Regions from separate parts of the Homo sapiens genome. Here regions 2 and 3 are each linked to region 1. Evidence: fine-mapped expression QTL. A gene starts in region 1. Each other region holds a variant in brackets. All regions are shown on one strand. Distances are from middle to middle. Region 1 holds the start of ZNF83 (zinc finger protein 83). Region 2 holds the start of LOC122539214 (Zinc finger protein LOC122539214). Region 3 holds the start of LOC105372452 (a long non-coding RNA gene).

Region 1 (7,085 bases):
GAATGAGAATATGGCTCCATCCTCTAGGATACAAAAGTGCTTCTCCCATAGTTGAGAAAAATAGTAACTATTTTTACCAAAAACACCTGTTTCAGAAGCCTCTTAACACCACAATCTCCACGAGCTTAATGTGCTAAGAATGGTTTAAAGAATCTCCTGCTATTATTCAGGTTGATTTCCTATTCTTAAAATAATGATGGAATAAAACACCTTGTATCATGCATGTCTGTGTATGAACTTTCCATTCTAATTAGTAAGATTTTTGGAGTCAGAAACAAAGTAACTCACTAAATTACCTAAAAATATAGTATAAAATCAGGGAGAAAAGATTTCCCCTTATTTGTCTCCTTTTCTAGAATTTACCACATACTTCGTGGACATTAATACGTGACTTCCATTGGCAGCTGCTCTAATCCTGGTCCACAGAGAGTTGACAGAGCATCCAGATGTGGCCCCTGAACAATCCCTGCTGCCCAACAGCACTGACACCACGGGACCCTCACCCCGTCTCCATCCATGTCTGGGTGTGGGCCCTTACCAGGACCATGCCCAGTGCAGCCTCTTCCCAAGTTCATGTGATTGGGTCACAAGAGATGGAATCTAAGTGAGATGAGAGGGACTGAGGGAAGGCATGGGTGAGTGTGAGCAAACCTGTCAGGCAGGACACTTCTTGAGACCCAGAGAAGATTCCCAACTCCAAGGCCCAGGGTTTCTGAAAGGAAAGAGACAGAACAATCCACCGAGAATATCATCTCACCTGAGGAAGAACCATTCCTGACGCCTTTGCTTTCCTCTTCCCCTTCCGGGTTTCTTCCTCATGTACCAAGAGTCCTTAGAAGTCAATCCTGAATGTTAAAAATATGTTGTTTATTGCTCAGAATCAATACACCCCATTCCTGTAACATAACAACACATACAAAGGAGACCTCACCCTGAGGAAATATGGTCCCCTCTGCTGCCCACTGCACCAGAGACGATAAACTCCTACAGGAAAACTCCCGCACCCTTCTGGAGAAGCCCACACCACACCCTTCTGGAGGAGTCCACACACGCTGCAGCAGTGGGGAGCTGGGCTGGAATGAGCTCCTCTTCAGGGCGCAGACCCAGCCCTGACCAAACCCCATGCAGAAACTGGGTGCAGTGGCTCATGCCTGTCATCCCAGCACTCTGGGAGGCTGAGGCAGGTGGATCGCTTAATCTCAGGGGTTTGAGATCAGCCTGGGCAACATGGTGAAACCCCATCTTTGCCAAAAATACAAAAACATAGCCAGGCATGAAGGTACACGTCTGTGTGTCTATGTTCCCAGCTACTTAGGAAGCTGAGGAGACAGAATCGCTTAAGCTCAGGAATTAGAGACCAGCCTGCCAACATGTTGAAACCCTCTACTAGAAATACAAAAATTGGGCTGGCCACAGTGGCTCATGCCTGTAATACTAGCACTCTGAAAGGCCAAGGTGGGCAGATTGTTTGACGTCAGGAGTTCGAGAGTAGCCTGGGCTACATGGTGAAACTCCATCTCTACTAAAAATACAAAAAGTAGCTGGGCTTGGTGGGCGTCTGTAATCCCAGCTAGTTGGGAGGCTGAAGCAAGAGAATCGCATGAATCTGGGAAGCTGAGATTGTGGTGAGCCGAAATCACGCCACTGCACTCCAGCCTGGGAAACAACAGGGAAATTCCAACTCAAAAAAAAAAAAAAACTATGTAGACCACGTGCGGTGGCTCTTTCCTGTAATCTCAGTACTCTGGGCGGCCAAGGCAGGAGGATACTTTGAGCCCAGGATTTTGAGACTAGCCTGGGAAACACAGTGAAACCTCGTTTCTACAAAAAAAAAAAAAAGAAAGAAAAAGAAAACTAGCCGGGCTTCTTGGTGGCTCATCACTGTGGTCCCAGCTACTTAGGAAGCTGACGTAGGAGGATTACTTGAGCCCAGGAGGACCAGGCTGCAGTTAAAGATCATGCCACTGCATTCCAGCCTAGGCAATTGGCCAGACCCTGTCTCTTAATGTTAGTTAATTAATTAAGTTAAAAATTATGTGTTAACAGAAAGGGATTTTTTTCTCACTTCACTGCCCCACTCCCTACCCCACTCTGGGAAAAGGGAACAGAGTGACTCACAAGTGAATAAGTCACTCCACTGTAGCTGAATAGGGATTCCAAGTGGAAGCTAACCTCTGAGGCCAACATTCATAGAATGTACATGTCTTATAGATAGGATTCTTAAAATTCTCAATCTCATCTGTATAATTTAAGCAGTTTTAAGTTACTAGATTATATACAAAGAAGTCAAATGTCACAACTAATCGTATCCAATGAACTCACCCACTCATCTAAACCCAAAGTCCTCCGCCCCTTTTTTTCTTTTGAGACAGGGTCTTGCTCTGTTGACCAGGCTGGAGTGCAGTGACATGATCTCGGCTCACTGCAGCCTGGACCTCCTGGGTTCAAGTGATCCTTCTGCCTCGGCCTTCAGAGTAGCTGGGATTACAGGTGCACACTATCATGCCCGGTTGTTTTTTTTTTTTTTTGGTAGAGATGGGGGTCTCACTATGTTGCCCAAGCTAGACTCGAACTCCTGTACTCAAGCAATCTTCTTGCCTCAGTCTCCTAAAGTGCTGGGATTACAGGCGTAAGCCACTGCGCCCAGCCCATCTTTCTTCATTACTGTGCTTCCCTCCCTAATTGTGTACATATCTCTCATTCTCCCCTTCTCTCTCTAGCTCTTGTTTTCTTTTCTTTTTACCTGGCATTCTGCTCCTCATTTTGTACCCCTCTCCTCTCCTGCTGTTTATCCCCTTCTTCCCTCTATTCCTTCTCTTCCACCTCTTCTGCTCCATCCTCGCAACTTACCTAACTTCTTGCTGTTCCTTCTCCCCAATCGTTCTATCGTCCTCAATCTTGATATATTTCCGCCTCTTCTCCCATCTCTGTGCATCCTCTGCTCTCCCTGTTAAATTCCGTCTTCCCTGTTATACCCCCTGTCCCCAATATGTGGAACCACAGATCCCCAGGTGTCCTCCCTGCTGTGGTTCTCCCTCTGTTCTCCTTGCCACCAGCACCACTCTGCTCTGTCTGCCCTGGCTCCAAATCCCTCCTCCTCTCCCTCACTCTGATGAGATTCCCTCTTTGCTGCCCCTCTCCCTACCTTGCTGTCCTTCATCTCTCTGTACATCTAGGTTTCTCTACGTTTCTCCAGTTACTTTTCTCCTCCTGCTTTCTTTTTTTTTCTTTTCACTTTTGCTGTCTCTTGACAAATCCATCACCCACCCTCTACTTTGCCCTCTGTTATGGGTCTTTCTCATTCTTTTCTCTGTCTCAGCTTTTCTACTGCTCTGTCTCCCAATGCCTTTGGCCGACACAATCACAGGAGGGTTTGGATAAGACGCCTGCATCCCGGAGGAGCTCGTTTTCCGGGGGCTGGAGCTGGGCAGGCAAGAACACCCCGTGTCACAGGACAGGCCCCGGGTACCTCCCCAACGCGGGTTCAGGGGAAGAGGTGACTGTGGAGGAGAGACCTGTGGAGCAGCAGGGCCCGCCACGAGGAGGGAGGTGGGGGGGAGACGGCGCCTTAAGACAAGGTTGGGGTCTGCAGGATTCCAGGACCAGGCAAAGTACGCGGCCTCCCTGGGACTGGGGCCCTGGCGCTGCGCTCCAGTGGCCTACGAAGGCGAGGGTGGGAGGCGCCCAGGGCGGGAATCCAGCTCTCGGGTGAGGACTTTAAAAAGCGAGGGGCGGGAGGAGTCAGAAAACAGTTTTGAGCAGGAAAACTACGCGACAGGAAGTGTATACATCGCCCTACAGCAGAAAGACCGGGGACAGCCCAGCCTCAGGGCGACTTTAAACCCAAAAGGAAGCGATATCCGGACTCTCATGGGGACGTCTCAATTTGTCCTGGGTGAAGGAAGAAGGGAGAGAATTTCCAGGTCTGTGGGGACCCCACGTCTCAGGTACAGCAGCGCCGGGGACCTGGTAAGCGCAGACTTAATAGAAGAGCGAAACTCACCGCCACGGTGTAACTTTCACTCCACATAATCCGCTTCCGGGTTTGCGCGCATGTGCGCGCGCAGTACAGAAGCCAGGTCTGGGCGGGGCCCGCGAGGTGGGCGGGGCCTGGATGAGGTAGGGGCGGGGTGGGAAGCCGAGAGACTTTCCCCTTTAGAACCAGCAGTGGGCGGGGCCAGGGCGGGACCTGTGAGTCTCTCAGCATCGTTCCCAGCGCAGAGGCATTTTTCGGGTTTTGGAGGCGAGACCGGCCAGGAAGGCTGAGGCATGATTCAAAAGCCCTGGAATTATCTGGAACGGGGATGCAAACTAGAATGTGAAATGCAAAGCCCTGCCTGGGCGGAAGGTACAATTTCATGCTGATAGCCCACAGAACCGAATAGAAATCCTCTCCCTTTCTATTCTCCATTCACTTGGGAGAGAGTCCACGCTGTGCTCAGCTTTAGAGACTCAGGCCACTGCCTGAGATGCAGGATGGAGTGCTCAGGCCAAGGATGGGTGAGGTCACCACCTGCGGCTTAAACACAGCTGGGATATGGGCGCGGGAGTGGGAGCCTGAGGTCCCAGCTATTCAGGAAGCAGCGGCGGGAGGATCGCCGAGCCTGGGAGTTCAGGCCAGCCTGGGCGACAAAGTAACACCCCCTCCCGCAGGGCTCCCTTCCTCGTCTCTCTCTCTCTTTTCTTTTTTATAATAAAATTTTTGATGATGTTACATAGGGATCCAACATTATTCTTTTCCACGTGGATATCCAGTTAGTTGTCCCAGCGTATTTGTGTAAGAGATCTATCAGTTTCTTTTTTTGTTTCTTGAGATGGAGTTTTGCTCTAGTTGACCAGGCTGGAGTGCAATGGCGCGATCTCTGTCTCCCAGGTTCAATCGATTCTCATGCCTCTATCTCCCAAGTAGCTGGGATCACAGGGATGTGCCACCATGCCCTGCTAATTTTGTATTTTTAGTAGAGATGGGATTTCTCCATGTTGGTCAGGTTGGTCTCAAATTTCCGACCTCAAGTAATCCGCCCGCCTCGGCCTCCCAAAGTGCTGGGATTACAGGTGTGAGCCACCGCGCCCGGCTTATTTTCTTTTATATATTTAGTTTTTTCTATTTTTTTTTTTTTTTTTTTTTGAGGCAGAGTTTTCTTTTTTGGCCAGGCTGGAATGCGGTGGCGAGATCTGGGCTCACTGCAGCCTCTGCCTCCTGGGTTGAACCGATTTTCCTGTCTCAGCCTCCGGAGTAGTTGACATTACAGACGCGCACAACCATGCCCGGCTAATTTTTGTATTTTCGATACAAACGAGGTTTCACTATATTGGCTAGGCTGGTCTCGAACTTCTGACTTCAAGTGATCTGACTGCCTCAGCCTCTGAAAGTGCTGGGATTATAGTCATAAGCCACACTTCCTGGCCCAAAAAATATTCATTTCTTTACTCTTTAAATTTTGAGAAAATATAATGGAAAACAAAAAAAATCTTCCCCCCAATGAGAAATCATCTTCACGATGATAATAGTGAAAGAAATAAAAACCACATTATTAATAAGTAAGCCTTAAACCAGAATGTGATGGGAAATTGAGGCAAACAGCTAAGAGGTTGAAAAGAGACAAGGAAACTTCACTGTTCTATACAACCCATTGAGTACATGTTTTCAAGATAAACACTAATCAGTCCTCAGGGAAGAGGACTTGACAACACTCTTGGTCACACATAGTTCATCCTGGCTCTATTTGGTAATGGAGGTGACCATCTGTGTCAGCTAATTAGCTTCATCCAGAGGGAGGGGGAAAACCCTAACCCATGTCTTTTTGACGAGTGTGAGTTTTACAACATAGCGACGCGTGCCCTCTCTGGTCAGGCGCCTACAATCCGACAGAAACTGACGTCAGCAGTAAATAATAAAATTTAGAATGTAAGATTAAGTACTGAGTTTATGTGAACACAAAGCTTGAAGAAAGCCACCTGGAAACACCAACTCCAAATAAATGAGATCGGCGTTCCAAAGTAGAGACGTTAAGGTTTCACACACAGGGAAAGACAGAGAATCTTTAGCAGAATCATGACAGCTTTCATTCAAGCCCAGTGCATAGGTTGCAGCAACTTGATTGGTTATGGATTGATACAATTCGAGGAAGGTCACTTTATCACTCCATAAGAAGTAACAATGATCCCATGAGGTCTTATCTCTGGGGCTGCTTAGTCTTCCTAATTATTAACAGGAAAACTCTTTTTTGTTTTTCTTTGAGAGGCAGTATTGCTCTGTCGCCCAGTGGTGCAATCTCAGCTCACTGCAACCTCCACCTCCTGGGTTCAAGCAGTTCTACTGACTCTAATTGTCAGTCCTCTCTGCAACCAGCGCCCCAGTCCACCCCTTTACTGAGGTCCCTGCCCTCCCCACTGCGCTGCCCCAGACTGAGGGGGGAGTTCGCCCCGACTGCAGGACTCTGCCTGCTCAAACAAGGCGCTTTGCATTAAAACCATTTTCAACTTAAGAGGAAAAACGATTCAGTGTTCAGTACAGGTGTCCTACTACAACATGTTGTTTTATCTTCGATTGTCTGAAACACTAACTTGAAATGGGCAGGAAACATCCCTGTGATATTAGGGGTAATATCACGGCACATCAGAACCAATCCACCAATCAGAACTCGGAGGATTTAGTCCAGGCGGGCAAGAGGATGACAGCAGGCGACATCTGGGGCCCAGCTGAGGAGAGAGCCCGAACCCGACCCTTGCCGGCCCCCACCCTTCAGAACAACACCCCCTCCAGACCCCGCCCCCAAGATGACGATAACCCTCTGGTTCTGCCCTTTCCCATTGTATGGCCTGGCCCCCAGGCGGCCTCCTCCCTCTTGCCCCGCCCCAGTCTTGTTCCAGGCACCGCCCCCACGCTCTAGCTCTCCTAGGTTCCTGCTTAAGTTTATACACTCATGGTCCACAGAGTCCTAAGCAGAAATATGGAAGACACCAAGCTCTGGTAATGTATCTATCTGACAGACTGAGCGTCTGCCTCAAGAACATAGCAATAGCAATACTAAGTGAAATATTAGGAAGTTTCACGTATGTATATAATTGATCATTTATTATTT
Region 2 (7,085 bases), 52 kb after region 1:
CTTAAAACTAAGATTTTTCTCAAACTCCAACTGCAAAAAAATTACATATATATATATATATATATATAAATAAATGAGAAACCAGAAAGAAAAAAAAAAAGAAATCTATTACACAACAAGAACAAAAGCACTTTTGATACCCCTTTTATTTTTTATTTTTTGTTTGTTTGTTTTTCTGAGATGGAGACTCGCTATGCCACCCAGGCTGCAGTGCAGCAACATGATTTCAGCTCACTGCAACCTCTACCTCCCAGGTTCAAGTGATTGTGTACCTCATCTTCCTGGGCAGCTGGAACTACAGGTGCACGCCACCATGCCTGGCTAAGTTTTGTATTTTTCATAGAGACGGCGTTTCACCATGTTGGCCAGGCTGCTCTTGAACTCCTGACCTTACGTGATTCTCTCACCTCGGTCTCCCAAAGTGCTGGGATTACAGGCATGAGATACCACACCTGGCTTTGATGTCCATTTTAGAAAGTACTATGGGCTGGGTGCAGTGGCTCACATCTGTAATCCCAGCACTTTGGGAGATCGAGGTGAGCAGATCACCTGAGGTCAGGAGTTTGAGACCAGCCTCTCTAACATGGAGAAACCCTGTCTCTACTAAAAATACAAAATTGGCCCAGAGTGGTGGCGCATGCCTGTAATCCCAACTACTCAGGAGGCTAAGGCAGGAGAATTGCTTGAACCCAGAAAGCAGAGGTTGCACTAAGCTGAGATTGCAACATTGCCCTCCAGCCTGAGCAACAAGAGTAAAACTCCATCTCAAAAAAAAAAAAAAAAGTACTATGTAGGCCAGGCGCAGTGCCTCAACCCTGTAATCCCAGTACTTTGGGAGGTCAAAGCAGGAGGATCCTTTGAGCCCAGGATTTTGAGACCAGCTTGGGAATTTAAAACCCCGTTTTACAATTATATATATAGATATATAATTTATATAGCTATATAAATTATAATATAAATTATAATTTATATATATATAATTTATATAGCTATATAAATTATAATATAAATTATAATTTATATAGCTATATAAATTATAATATAAATTATAATTTATATATCTATATAAATTATAATTTATATAGATATATAAATTATATATAAATTTTATATATAAATTATATATATAAATTATATGTGTAAATTTTATATATATATAAATTTTATATATATATATATATAATGTATATATATATAATGTGTATATATATATATAATGTATATATATATATATATATATATAATGTATATATATATATAACTAGCCGGGCTTGGTGGCTCATGTCTGAGGTCCCAACTACTCAGGAGGCTGAGGTAGGAGGATCACTTGACCCCAGGGGGCCAAGGCTGCAGTTAGAGGAGATCACGCCACTGCACTCCAGCCCGAGTGATACAGCCAGACCCTGTCTCAAAATATTAATTAATTAAATTAAAAGTATTGTGTAATAACAGAAAGTGATTTTTGTTGCACTTCACTGCCCCACGTCCTACCCCACCCTGGGAAAAGGGAAGAGAGTAACTTCCAACTCAATAAGTCACTGCTCTCTGGCTGAATAGGGATTCCAACTGGAAGCTAACCTCTGATGCCAAGATTTACAGAATGTACATGTCTCATAGACAGGAATTTTAAAATTCTCAATCTCATCTTTATAATTTAATCAAGTTTTAAATTATTAGATTATATACACAGAAGTCAACATGTCACAACTAATCATAGCCAATAAACTCACCTACTCATCTGATCCCAAAGTCCCCCTGCCCCTTCTTTTCTTTGGTAACAGGGTCTCACTCTGTTGACCAGGCTGCAGTGCAGTGGCATGATCTTGGCTCACTGCAGCCTGGACCTCCCGAGCTCAAGTGATCCTCCTCCCTTGGCCTCCAGAGTAGCTGGGATTACAGGTGCGCACCATCATACCCGATTAATTTTTTTTTTTTTTTGGCAGAGATAAGGATCTCACTATGTTGTGCAGGCTGGTCTAGAACTCCTGGACTCAAGCAATCCCCCTGCCTCAGTCTTCTAAAGTTCTGGGATTACAGGCATGAACCACTGTACCCAGCCTCTCTTTCTTCATTACTTTGCTTCCTTCCCTGATTCTGTACGTATCTCTCATTCTCCCCTTCTCTCTCTAGCTCTTGTTTTATTTTCCCCCGGGGTTCTGCTCCTCATTTTGTACCTCTCTCCTCTCCTGCTGTTTATCCCCTTCTTCACTCTATTCCTTCTCTTCCACCTCTTCTGCTCCATCCTTGTAACTTATCTAACATCTTGCTGCTCTTCTCCCCAATCTTTTGATCATCCTCTATCTCTATATGGACAGAAATTTAAAAATAATAAGTACTGCATTTATTCACTCCAAGAAAAGTAAAAGCTAAGGCCCACAATGTGGCAAGGCAAGGTTTAAAAATAAAAAGAAAAGAACAAGTTTTCCTCTGCCTGTCAAGCTCACATCAAGAACGGTTACAGGATAACGCTGTCCGAATAGCCAAGTCTAAATGAATGGGCTCCAGACACCCCCACCTTCCAGAGCAAGGTTGAAGGAAAAAAAAAAAAAAAAAAAAAAGAGAGAGATTATTTTACTGTTACTCTTTTTCCAGGCTTCTTAAGCATTATTATGTTTTACAAATGTCTGTATTTAGTCAGTTCTTGTTTTTCCTTTGATGCAGCTACAAGGCCACCGGCAACCCAAGGTCACAAGATATGTTATGCTATAGATTACACAACCTGTCACTGTATAATTAACTGCTTTTGTTTTGCTTTTGTAAGGCCACTTATAAAAACCCTGCTCTGTCTTTGTTCAGTGCTCAGCTTTTTGGATATGAATCCACTGAGCCAGTGCGTACCTAAAATAAACAATTCTGTTTCTCTCATATTGGTCTCTCCATTCTTCAGTTTCCCCTAACACAAATATTTCCGCCTCTTCTCCCATCTCAGCGCCTCCTCTGCTCTCCCTGTTACATTCTCTCTTCCCTGTTATACCCTCATCCCCACTCTCTAGCAC[T/C]CCAGATCCCCAGGTGTCCTCCCTGCTGTGCTTCTCCCTCTGTTCTCCTTGCCACCAGCACCACTCTGCTCTGTCTGCCCTGGCTCCAAATCCCTCCTCCTCTCCCTCACCCTGATGAGCCTCCCTCTTTGCTGCCCCTCTCCCTACCTTGCTGTCCTTCATGTCTCTGTACATCCAGCTTTTCTCTACATTTCTGCACTTGCTTTTCTCCTCCTGCTTTCTTATCGTTTTCTTTTCACTTTTGCTGTCTCTTGGCAAATCCCTCACCCATCCTCTACTTTGCCATCTCTTATGGCTCTTTCTCATTCTTCTTTTCTCTGTCTCAGGTTTTCCACTGCTCTCTGTCCGTCTCCTGATCCCTTTGGCCCACACAATCACAGGAGGGTTTGGAGTAAGACGCCTGCATCCCGGAGGAGCTTATTTTCCAGGGGCTGGAACTGGGCAGGCAAGAACACCCCGTGTCACAGGACAGGCCCCGGGCACCTCCCCAACGCGGGCTCAGGAGAAGCGGTGACTGCGGAGGAGAGACCTGGGGAGCAGCAGGGCCCGGCACGAGGAGGGAGGTGGGGGGCGACGGCGCCTGAGGACAAGGGTGGGGTCTGCAGGATCCCAGGACTAGGCAGAGGACACGGCCTCCCCGGGACAGGGGCCGCGGCGCTGCGCTTCAGAGGCCGACAAGGGCAAGGCTGGGAGGTGCCCACGGCGGGAATCCACTTCGCGGGTGAGGACGTTAAAAAGCGCGGGGCGGGAGGAGTCTGAAAATGATTTTGAGAAAAAAAAAAAAAAAACAACAACAACTACGCGATAGGAAGTGTATACATTGCCCTAGAGCAGAAAGACAGGGGATGGGACCAACCTCAGGGCGACTTTAGACCCAAAAGGAAGCGACTTCCAGACTCTCACGGGGATGTCTCTATTTGCTCTGGGTGAAGACGGGAGAGAAGTTCCAGATCTGTGGGGACCCTAGGTCCGAGGGACAGAAACGCTGAGGACCTGGGAAATGCAGACTTAATACAAAACAGCGAAACTCACCGCCGCGGTGTGACCGTCACTCCACGCGATCCGCTTCCAGATTTGCGAGAATCTGCGCGCGCAGGACAGAAGCCAGGCCTCGGCGGGCCCCGCGAGGTGGTGGGCGGGGCCTGGGCCGGGTGGCGGCGGGGCGCGAAGCAGAGAGACTTTGCGGTTTAGAACCGGCAGAGGGCGGGGCCGGGGCGGGACCTGTGTGTCTCACATCCTGGCTCCCAGCGCCTCTGTTTTTCGGGTTTGGGAGGCGACAGCGGCCAGGAAGTATGAGGCATGATTCAAAAGCCCTGGAATTTTCTGGAACGGGGATGCAAACTAGAATGTGAAATGCAAAGCCCTGCCAGGGCGGAACATAGGATTTCATGCTGACGGCCCACAGAACAGAACAGAACTCCTCTCCCTTTCTATTCTCCATTCACAAGGGAGGGAGGGTCCGCCCTGTGCTCAGCTTCAGAGACTTCCCTAAAGCCACTGCCTGGGGTGCGGGACGGAGTGCTCAGGCCAGGGAGGAGTGAGGTCACCACCTGCTGCTTAAACACAGCAGGGGTGCAGGCGCGAAGGCGGGAGCCTGAGGTCCCAGCTACTCAGGAAGTAGGAGCAGGAAGATCGCTGAGCCCTGGGGTCCAGGCCAGCCTGGGCGACAAAGTAACACCCCCTCCCGCAAGGCCACCTTCCTTGTCTCCCTCTCTCTCCGTCTCTCTCTCTCTCTCTCTCTCTCGCTTTTTAAACCTTTTTAAATAAAATTTTTGATGGTGTGACATAGGGATCCAACATTATTCTGTTCCGTGTGGATATCCAGTTAGTTGTTCCAGCACATTTGTGGAAGAAATCTATTACTTTTTTTTCACGTTTTTCTTTTCTTTTTCTTTGAGGGAGTCTCCCTCTGTCGCCCAGGCTGGCGTGAAGGGGCGTGATCTCTGCTCACTGCGACCTCTGCCTCCTGGGTTGAAGCGATTCTCCTGCCTCAGCCTCCGGAGTATTACAGTATTACTGGTATTAGAGGCACGAGCGACCATGCCCGGCTAATTTTTGTATTTTTGATAGAGGCGGGCTTTCACCATGTTGGCCAGGCTGGTCTCAAACTCCGAACTTCAAGTAATCTACCTGCCTCGGCCTCCTAAAGTGCTGGGACTACAGGCGTGGGCTACCTTGCATAGCCTAAGGAATGCTCTTTACTGTTTAAACGTTGAGAAAATATAATTGAAAACAAAGAAAATCTTCCCCCAAATGGGTAATTATCTCCACGACAACAGAGAAATAAATAAAAACCATTTTAATAAAGAACCTTAGACTCAAATGTGATGGGAAATAGAGGCAAACAGCTATGAGGTTGAAAAGAGAGAAAGAAATGTCACTGTTCTATACAACCCATTAAGCACATGTTTTCAAGATAAACACTAATCAGTCCTCAGGGAAGGGGATTTGACAACCCCTTGGGTCACACATACTTCATCCTGGCTTTACTTGGTAATGGAGGTGACCATCTGTGTCAGCTAATTAGCTTCATCCCGAGGGAGGGGGAAAAACCCTAACCCATGTCTTTTTGACAAGTGTGAGTTTCACAACATGGGGACAGGTGCCCTCTCTGGTGAGACTCCTACAATACGACAGACACTGATGTCAGAGGTAAATAATAAAATTTAGAATATATGATTAAGTGCAGAGTTTGTTTGAACACAAAGCTTGGAAATAGCCACCTGGAAACATCAACTTCAAATGAATAGGATCAGCGTTCTCAGGTGGAGACGTTAAGATTTTACACACATAGGAAAAGACAGAGAAGCTTTACCAGAATCACATTTTCCATTCAAGACCAGTGCCTAGGGTGCAGCAACTTGACTGGTGATGGATTGATACACTTCAAGGAAGGTTACTTTATCACTCCATAAGAAGGGACAATGATGCCAAAAGGTCTTAACTCTGGGGCTGCTTAGTCTTCCTAATTATTTACAGAATAACCTTTTTTTTTTTAGTTGTTTGTTTGTTGTTGCTGTCATTTTTTCAGACAGCGTCTAGCTCTGTCACCCAGGCTGGAGTGTACTGGCACTATCTCGGCTCACTGCAACCTCCACCTCCCGGGTTCAAGCAGTTCTCCTGCCCCAGTCAGCCAGGTAGCTGCGATTACAGGCCAGTGCGACCACGCCTGGCTAATTGTTTTCTGTTTTTAGTAGATACTGGGTTTCACCATGTTGGGCTTCTCCATTAATCTCTCCTGCACACTTCAGACCACATCCACACACACTTAAATCAACTTCAGTTCAGAGATGAGAAGCAAAAACCTAGAGAGGACACATCCACAGTTACTCACCAGGCTGAGGTGGGAGGATTGCTTGACCCTGGAGAGCAGAGGTTGAAGTGACTCAAGATCGCACCACTGCCCTCCAGCCTGGGGGACATAGTGAGACCCCGTTACCCACATCCACCAAAAAGTTGGAAATGCATTGAAATAAGAGACAGCTTCAAGAAACTATAAAAGCAATGCATGCAGAAAATTCAAAGGTCAACCAACATACAGAAACTATGAAGAACTACACAGAAACTCTTGGGCTAAAAATAGAGTAACTAAATGAAAAAACGCAATACATGGGTTCAAAATCAGAATTCATTAGGTAAATTAAAAATTAGTGAAGAGGGGATGGGTGAGGTGGCTCACACCAGGACTTTGGGAGGACAAGGTGGGTGGATCACTTGAGCTCAGGAGTTTGGAGACCAACCTGGCCAATGTGGTGAAACCTTGTCTCTACTAAAAATACAAAGATTAACAGGGTGTGGTGGTGAGCTCCTGTAGTCCCAGCTACTCTAGGGGCTGATACAGGAGAAGCACTTGAACATGGGAGGCAGAGGTTGCAGTGAGCCGAGATCACCCCACTGCCCTCCAGCCTGGGCGACAAAGCAGGACTGTCTCAAAAAATAATAATAATAATAATAATAAAATAGGCCAGGCCTGGTGGCTTATGCTTGTAATCCCACTATAAAAAAAAAATACAGAAAATTAGCCAGGCGTGGTGGTGGGCACCTGCAGTCTCAGCTACTCGGGAGGCTGAGGCAGAAGAATGGCATGAA
Region 3 (7,085 bases), 110 kb after region 1:
GTTTCACTTTACACAAACATCTCAGCGTAGCAAAGAGTCACAGAGCAGTATTGCTGCCAGCATATCTCACCTCCAGCCACAGGGCAGTTTTCTCCTATCTCAGAATACAAAGAATGGTCAGCTTTACACCTAGACATTCCATTCCCAGGACGAGCAGGAGACAGATGCCTTCCTCTTATCTCAATTGAAAAGAGGCCTCCCTCTTTCACTAATCCTCCTCAGCACAGACCCTTCACTGGTGTTGGGCTGGGGGATATAAGGTCTTTCCTTTCCCACAAGACCATATCTCAGGCTGTCTCAGTGGGTGGAAACCTTGGACAATACCCAGGCTTACTTGGGCAGAGGTCCCTGTGGCTTTCCGCAGTGCATTGTGTCCCTGGTTAATAGAGAATGGAGAATGGCATGACTTTTACAAAGCATACTGCATGCAAAAATACTGTTAACAAGGCACAGCCCACACAGCCCTAAATCCATTAAACCTTGATTCAATACAGCACATGTTTCCGTGAGCACAGGGTTGGGGCTAAATTTACAGATTTATAGTATCTCAAAGCAGAACAGTTTTGCTTCATACAGATCAAAATGGAGTTTCTTATGTCTTCCTTTTCTATATAGACACAGTAACAATCTGATCTCTCTTTCTTCTCCCCACAAAAAAAAATATGAGACTTCATGTTAGAAATGACTCATTCCCTTCCTGGGGCAAAAACCCACAGACAGGAGAGATTTCACCCGTAGAAAGATGGTCGTCTGCTTCCCACTGCACCAGAGATCATGCAGAGATAAGAAAGTCCCACAGGAAGACCTACAAGTGTATATTTGACCCAGGTCTTCAGATCTCACTCCCCTCCTAGAAAACACCCACATACGAGGTAACGGGGGGGCGGGGGGGAGCTGGGCTGGATTGATCTCCCCTCGGCACAGACTCGTCCCTCATCCCTCATCAATCCCCATCTGGAGGACAGCCCCTCACTCTCTGTGGATCACAGGCTGAGCTCAGCACTCAGAAATGGAGGACACAGAGCTTCCATGCTCAATGCTGCACACAGATGACAAGCACCTGCGCCACTGCAGGTATTACTGAGGGTGGGTTCCAACCCATCAGAATAAGAATCCCTGCTAAAGCAACACAAAAGCTCTATTTGCAAAATGCTCTGCACTCTAATGTGAAGCCAGGGTTGAGCTCCACTCAGATGGGGCGAGCCCAGCACAGCCCCAAGTTCTTGCTCCGCCCTCCCCTTGGGGCCTTGTGCTCACTAGGATCCAGAGAGTGGATGACAAAGGCACAAAAGTAATCACACAGAACAGGCAAGATAGACCAGAGGTGGTGTGAGGGTTGGGCTGTGTGAAAGGAAAATAAATTTGGGGACCCCAAATCACTAAGCAAAAGGGAAAAGTCAAGCTAGGTACTGCTTAGAAAACCAGACTCACCTTCTATTCAAAGTCACCACTCTGCTCCCTGACATACATGCTTATCTGAGTGCCTCCTTTGGCAACGCTAATCAGAAACTCAAAAGAAGGACCCAGCACAGTGCCTCAGGACTGTAATCCCAGCACTTTGGGAGGCCAAGGCAGGCAGATCACTTGGGGTGAAGGGTTCAAGACTAGCCCGGCCAACATGGTGAAACATCTCTACTAAAAATACAAAAGTTATCTGAGCATGGTGGCATGCACCTGTAGTCCCAGCTACTTGGGAAGCTGAGGCAGGAGAATCACCTGAATGCAGGAGGCAGAGGTTGGAGTGAGTCAAGATCCTGCCATTGCACTCCAGCCTGGGCCACAGAGCAAGACTTCATCTCAAAAGAAAAAAAGAACCTCAAAAGATCGCAACCATTTGTGCCTCACTTATCTGTGACCTGGAAGCCCCCTCCCTGCTTCAAGTTCAAGTCTCCCTGGCTTTGTTTAAAGTTGTCCTGCCTTTCCAGACCAAACCAACGTACTTGTTACTATATTGACTGGTGTCTCCCTAAAGTGTATAAAATTAAGCTGTGCCCCGTCCACCTGGGGCACATGTCATCAGGAATTCCTGAGGCTGTGCCACGGGTGTGTCCTCAACCTTGGTGAAATAAACTTTCTAAATTAACTGAGATCTGTCTGAGAAGTCCTGGGCTCACAGCTGCAATGTCAAATGCGGATCTGTGTGAGATCACAAAGGTTTCCACACAGAAGGTGATACCAGAACAAACACCTAGGGAAGAAATGATGCTTGTCACTTGCAGCTGAGGGGACAGAGAGTCCTAGGCAGAGGGACAGCTCAAGCAAAGGCCCTGAGACAGGAGCAATCTCAGCCCCAGGAAGAGGAAAGTGGCCCGTGTGGGTGGAGCAGTGGAAGAAAGGAGGGCACAGATAGATGAGGTCAGAGAGGTCCTGGGGGCACAGATCCATAGGGACAAGGTCTTCAAACATTTTTCTCCCACAACCCAAAAGAATATTGAAAACCAACTCTGATCCCAGCTATTCGAGAGGCTGAGGCAGGAGAATCGCTTGAACCCGGGAGGTGGAGGTTGCAGTGAGCCGAGATCGCACCACTGCACTCCAGCCTGGGCCACAGGGCGAGAGTCAGTCTCAAAAACAAACAAACAAACAAACAAACAAACTGAGCACTAACCTCTCGAGAAGAAAAGCCACACACTGTATTTTGCCAGTCATTTCAGGGGTCACTGTCACTGTGACTGAGCTTTTCCAGTCTTATTCCTCACCTCTATGTTAAGGGGGGCTCACTGAGGCTCACAACGGGAGACATTTCACCAAGTTATCCTGAGAAGCTCTGAGGTGAGTAGAAAATAGGTGTGGCTGACTCCCACGAGATGGCCTGGAAGGGCCAATAGGCTGCCTTGGTCTTCCTCCTCTGGAAAATTGCAAGATCAGACGGGAGTCGTGGCCCAGCTGGGTAATCCCAGCACTTTGGGAAGTTGAGGCAGGCAGGTCATTTGAGCCCAGAAGTTTGAGACCAACATGGGCAACAAGGGAGTCTGGTTTAATAACTATATTTCCTACAACTAGCATATAAGGGGGCTTTACACAACTTTGCAAAGGAACTGTTAGACTGGAATTTAGGTCGATAGTATAAAATGGCTTACGATCTCTTGTTTCTATAGCTTGATTTCCAGACCAAATTTTAATGCGGTATGAGGCCACAGTAAGACTCTATAATTTTGGATGTTCAGGACCAGAAACAGAACTTATTATCTTTGTTCTTGGAGTAGAGATTTTTTTTTCTCCCCATTCCCAAGGGTAGAAAGA[C/T]GGCAATTTTTTGTGCTTATGTTTGGCTAAACTTTTTGTTAAGTCACTGTTAACAGCTGGACTCACTTCTGCACTGGGACATGACTGAGTTTGTCCTGTGCAATTGTGGTAGAATTGACCTCGAGGTGCCCAATCTATAATAGTTCCGAATTTATCATTTTGTAATATCACCGCACTATTGGCCACACATTCTTCCCAAACTAAAACTTTTGTGTCTTTTGATCCTTTGGGATTTTTTGGGGGTAAGGCTTTCCTTTAGGCCTAAATTTTAATGATCTTTGATAAGAAAAGTCTTGTAAATAATTTACCTGTGGCCTGAGTGACATTCCACTTACCGCGTGATTAGTGAATCTACTGGTGGTACCGACAGTAGGTACTTCTACCAACCAATTTTTGACTGCAGGCATTAAACATCCTGGTGCTCTCCCGAGGCAAATAGGAGGATAATGATACCCAGTGGAAATATTTATCATCATTCCTTCTTCCTCAGGTTTGGCAGGGCAACGATCATCTGTGGGGCCAGGTACCCATACACTATTATTAACGTATACTTCAATAGGATTATCCATCCATGAGACTGCCCGAATTAAGGGCGGGAAAGGCACATAGGCCCAGTAGGTATAATTAGCTGCAGCTGCTCCTGCAGGCGTGGGGAGACTTACCACCGTTGATACAATCATCAAAGCTGCAAGCAGCGTGTTCTCTGGAGTTTGTGTCACCTTTGTGTTCTCTAGGCTTTTTTAAGCTAACTGTGTCAGCTTTTAAATTGTGCCCAAGTTGGCAGCTCCGCCTTCGTGGTGGATGGCAACTTCATCTGTTTTTTTGACATCACCATTTTGTTTATCTTGTGAGTCAATGGTGCTCGATTGCGGTGTTTCCGTCTCTGTGGAGGCGCTTTTTTTTTTGTTTGTTTGCATCTCTAATGGGTTCATTGTAGAACTTTAAATGTCTAGTGGGTATCTAAACAGGAAGCTGATTTTCTCCTGGTGAAACACAAGCAAAACCTCTCCCCCACGTTACCACCTTCCCTATTTCTCATGTCTTATTGTTGTTGTCTTTTTATCAAATCAGTTTTCCTTCACGTAGGCTGTTCTTTTTACCAGTAAGATGTTGTTTTGCAGAGGTAGTAGTCTGATTTCTATAAGTGTTTAAAACATTTAAAGTATAGAGTGCTAGATTAAGTTGCATCTGAGGAGTGGTACACTCCTTACTGTCTCCCCCTTCTCTTTAACTGAGTTTTGAGTGTTCTATTAGTTTTTTTAACTATGGCCTGTCCTTGGGAATTATAGGGAATTCCTGTTTTGTGTGTAATTTTCTACTGATTTCAGAATTTTTGGAAAGCTTTACTATAGTATCCAGGTGCATTGTCAGTTTTGATTTTTTTCTGGAACTCCCATGACAGCAAAACAAGATAATAAATGTTTTTTCACATGGGAAGTACTTTCTCCTGTCTGGCAAGTTGCCCACATGAAATGTGAATAAGTACCAACTGTTACACGGACACATCATAATCTTTTAAATGAAGGTACATGTGTGACATCTATTTGCCATAATGCATTAGGACATAGACTTCTGGGATTAACTCCTGCCTCTTGAGTGGGCAGGTGTAGGACTTGACACTGGGTGCAATGTTGTACAATATCTTTTGCCTGTTTTCATGTGACATCAAATTTGTTTTTTAATCCTGCTGCATTTACATGAGTCAAAGCATGAAGTTCTTGTGCTTTTATGAATGCAGATGGTACCAGTAAGTCAGCTTGTTCATTTGCTTTAGCTAAAGGCCCTGGTAAATTAGTGTGTGCTAAAATATGAGTAATATGAAATGGGAAATTTTTTTTTCAGTTTGTTGTAATAAACTGAACAGCTCGTTTAACTGATCATCTATGCTATATTTAATTAGAGCTGTCTCAACATCCCTTGTAGCCTGCGCTACATATGCAGAATCTGATACAATATTAATAGGTTGATCAAAGTCTTATAACACTGTAATGACTGCAACCAACTCTGCTCTTTGAGCCGATTGATATTGAGTTTTGATGACTCGCTGTTTTGGCCCTGTGTAAGCTGCTTTTCTATTGCTGGAAGCATCAGTAAACACTGTCAGAGCATTTTCCAAAGGTTTATGTCTGGTAATTTTAGGTAAAATCCAAGTAGTCAATTTTAAAAACTGGAAGATTTTTGTTTTTGGGTAATGATTATCAATAATTCCCACAAAATTAGTAAGACCAATCTGCCATGCATCAGAATTGATAAAGGCTTGTCTAACCTGTTCCTTGTTTAAAGGAACAACTATTTTGTCTGCGTCATTTTCACACAATTTTATTATTTGTAATCTTGCCTGACCAATTAATGTAGCTATTTGATCCAAGAACAATGTAAAAGTCTTAATTGTACTGTGAGGAAGGAATGACCACTCCACAAGATCAGTATTTTGAACAATGATGTCTGTTGGAGAATGTGCAGTAGCAAAAATCAAAAGTTGGAGTGGGGTTAAGGGACCTTTGTGCTGACTGATTTTTTTCTTTTACTAACTTAATTTTTTTTGTTGCCTCTGGGGTTAATATTCTTTTACTATTTAAGTCTGGGTCCCCTCTTAAGATAGAGAACAAATTTGACATGGCATAAGTAGGAATGCCTAGAGTTGGCTGAATGTAATTAATATCTCCTAGCAAGTTTTGAAAGTCATTTAATGTTTTTAATGTGTCTTTTCTTATTTCTACTTTTTGTGGCTTAATTTTTCTATTTTCTATCTGCATCTCTAAATAATGAAAAGGAGTAGAGGTTTGAATCTTATCAGATGCTATTGCCAGTCTTGCGTTGGCAACCTCTGCTTGCAGAAATGTGTAACAGTCAGTTAATTTGTCTCTTGTTTCTGCAGCACACAAAATATCATCAACATAATGAATGATATAACAGTCTGAAAACTTATCTCTAACTGGTTGAAGAGCTTGACCTACGAAAGTCTGACAAATAGTTGGACTATTAAGCATTCCCTGAGGTAACACTTTCCACTGAGACCTGGTGGCTGGTTCCTTATAATTTATGGCTGGTATAGTAAAGGCAAATTTTTCAAAATCTTTCTCCACCAGAAAAATGGTAAAAAAGCAATCCTTTAGATCAATTATAATTAAAGGCCAGTCTTTTGGGATCATGACCAGAGAGGACAACCCGAGTTGAAGAGGCCCCATGGGTTGAATGATGGCATTTACGGCTCTTAAGTCAGTTAACATACACCATCTGCTGGATTTTTTCTGAATTACAAACACAGGAGAATTCTAAGGAGAGAAAGTGGGTGAAACGTGTCCTTTTTAAGTAGTTTTTTAACTATTTTATGTAGCGCCCCCAAATTTTCCTTAGGGAGCAGCCACTGTTTGACTCAGACAGGATGCTGCAAGGCAAGTCTGAATTGCTCCTTCACCATAATGAACTGTAAGTTGGGCAATAATGGGCACAGCGAGCCAAGTTGCAGTGAGCCTAGTTTCAGGCTCCCTCCCCCAGCACTCACTTGGCTGAGGAGGAGGTGGCCATCGTGGTTTTAGCCCCTATGACCCCGATGATTCTGGACCTTTTTCTTTTAACTTTAATGTTTCAGAATATATTACCTCTTGTAATTGATTGTAGTCAACATTTTGCTTTGACCGACCCATTACAGACTCTGCTACATATTTACAATGTGAACTTTCCGTTCCTTTCTGGGATTCTGTCCCTGTCTCTTCTTCACAATCTATTACATAGCTTTTAGGGCCATCAGAAACTGAAACGCTGTCTTCTCCTGTTTGAAACGGTTTTAAAGCTGCTTTAATAATGGCCCAATCATTCCATACCATAAGTGGGATGATTTT

The links. PIP is the estimated chance that this variant, and not a neighbour inherited with it, causes the effect.
Region 2: its variant is fine-mapped to the expression of ZNF83 in skeletal muscle (GTEx, PIP above 0.99).
Region 3: its variant is fine-mapped to the expression of ZNF83 in fibroblasts (GTEx, PIP 0.91).

The regions. Positions count from the first base shown.
Region 1 is chr19:52,634,309-52,641,393 of GRCh38, forward strand. It overlaps ZNF83 (zinc finger protein 83), which reads right to left and starts at 4,047. Exons shown (of 3, transcript NM_018300.4): 1 at 4,004-4,047; 2 at 758-845. LOC137778871 (a long non-coding RNA gene) reads left to right here. Exons shown (of 3, transcript NR_197425.1): 3 at 357-1,271. It also overlaps the pseudogene LOC124904757. RefSeq lists enhancers at 2,975-3,493, 3,494-4,011, 3,765-3,884 and a silencer at 4,095-4,294.
Region 2 is chr19:52,686,415-52,693,499 of GRCh38, forward strand. It overlaps LOC122539214 (Zinc finger protein LOC122539214), which reads right to left and starts at 4,082. Exons shown (of 4, transcript NM_001396016.1): 1 at 4,029-4,082. It also overlaps a transcript of ZNF83 not described here. RefSeq lists enhancers at 3,216-3,751, 6,946-7,085 and a silencer at 4,045-4,254. The variant T/C (reference allele first, on the strand shown) is at 2,997.
Region 3 is chr19:52,742,055-52,749,139 of GRCh38, forward strand. LOC105372452 (a long non-coding RNA gene) reads left to right here and starts at 2,686. Exons shown (of 2, transcript XR_936060.3): 1 at 2,686-2,772. The variant C/T (reference allele first, on the strand shown) is at 3,244.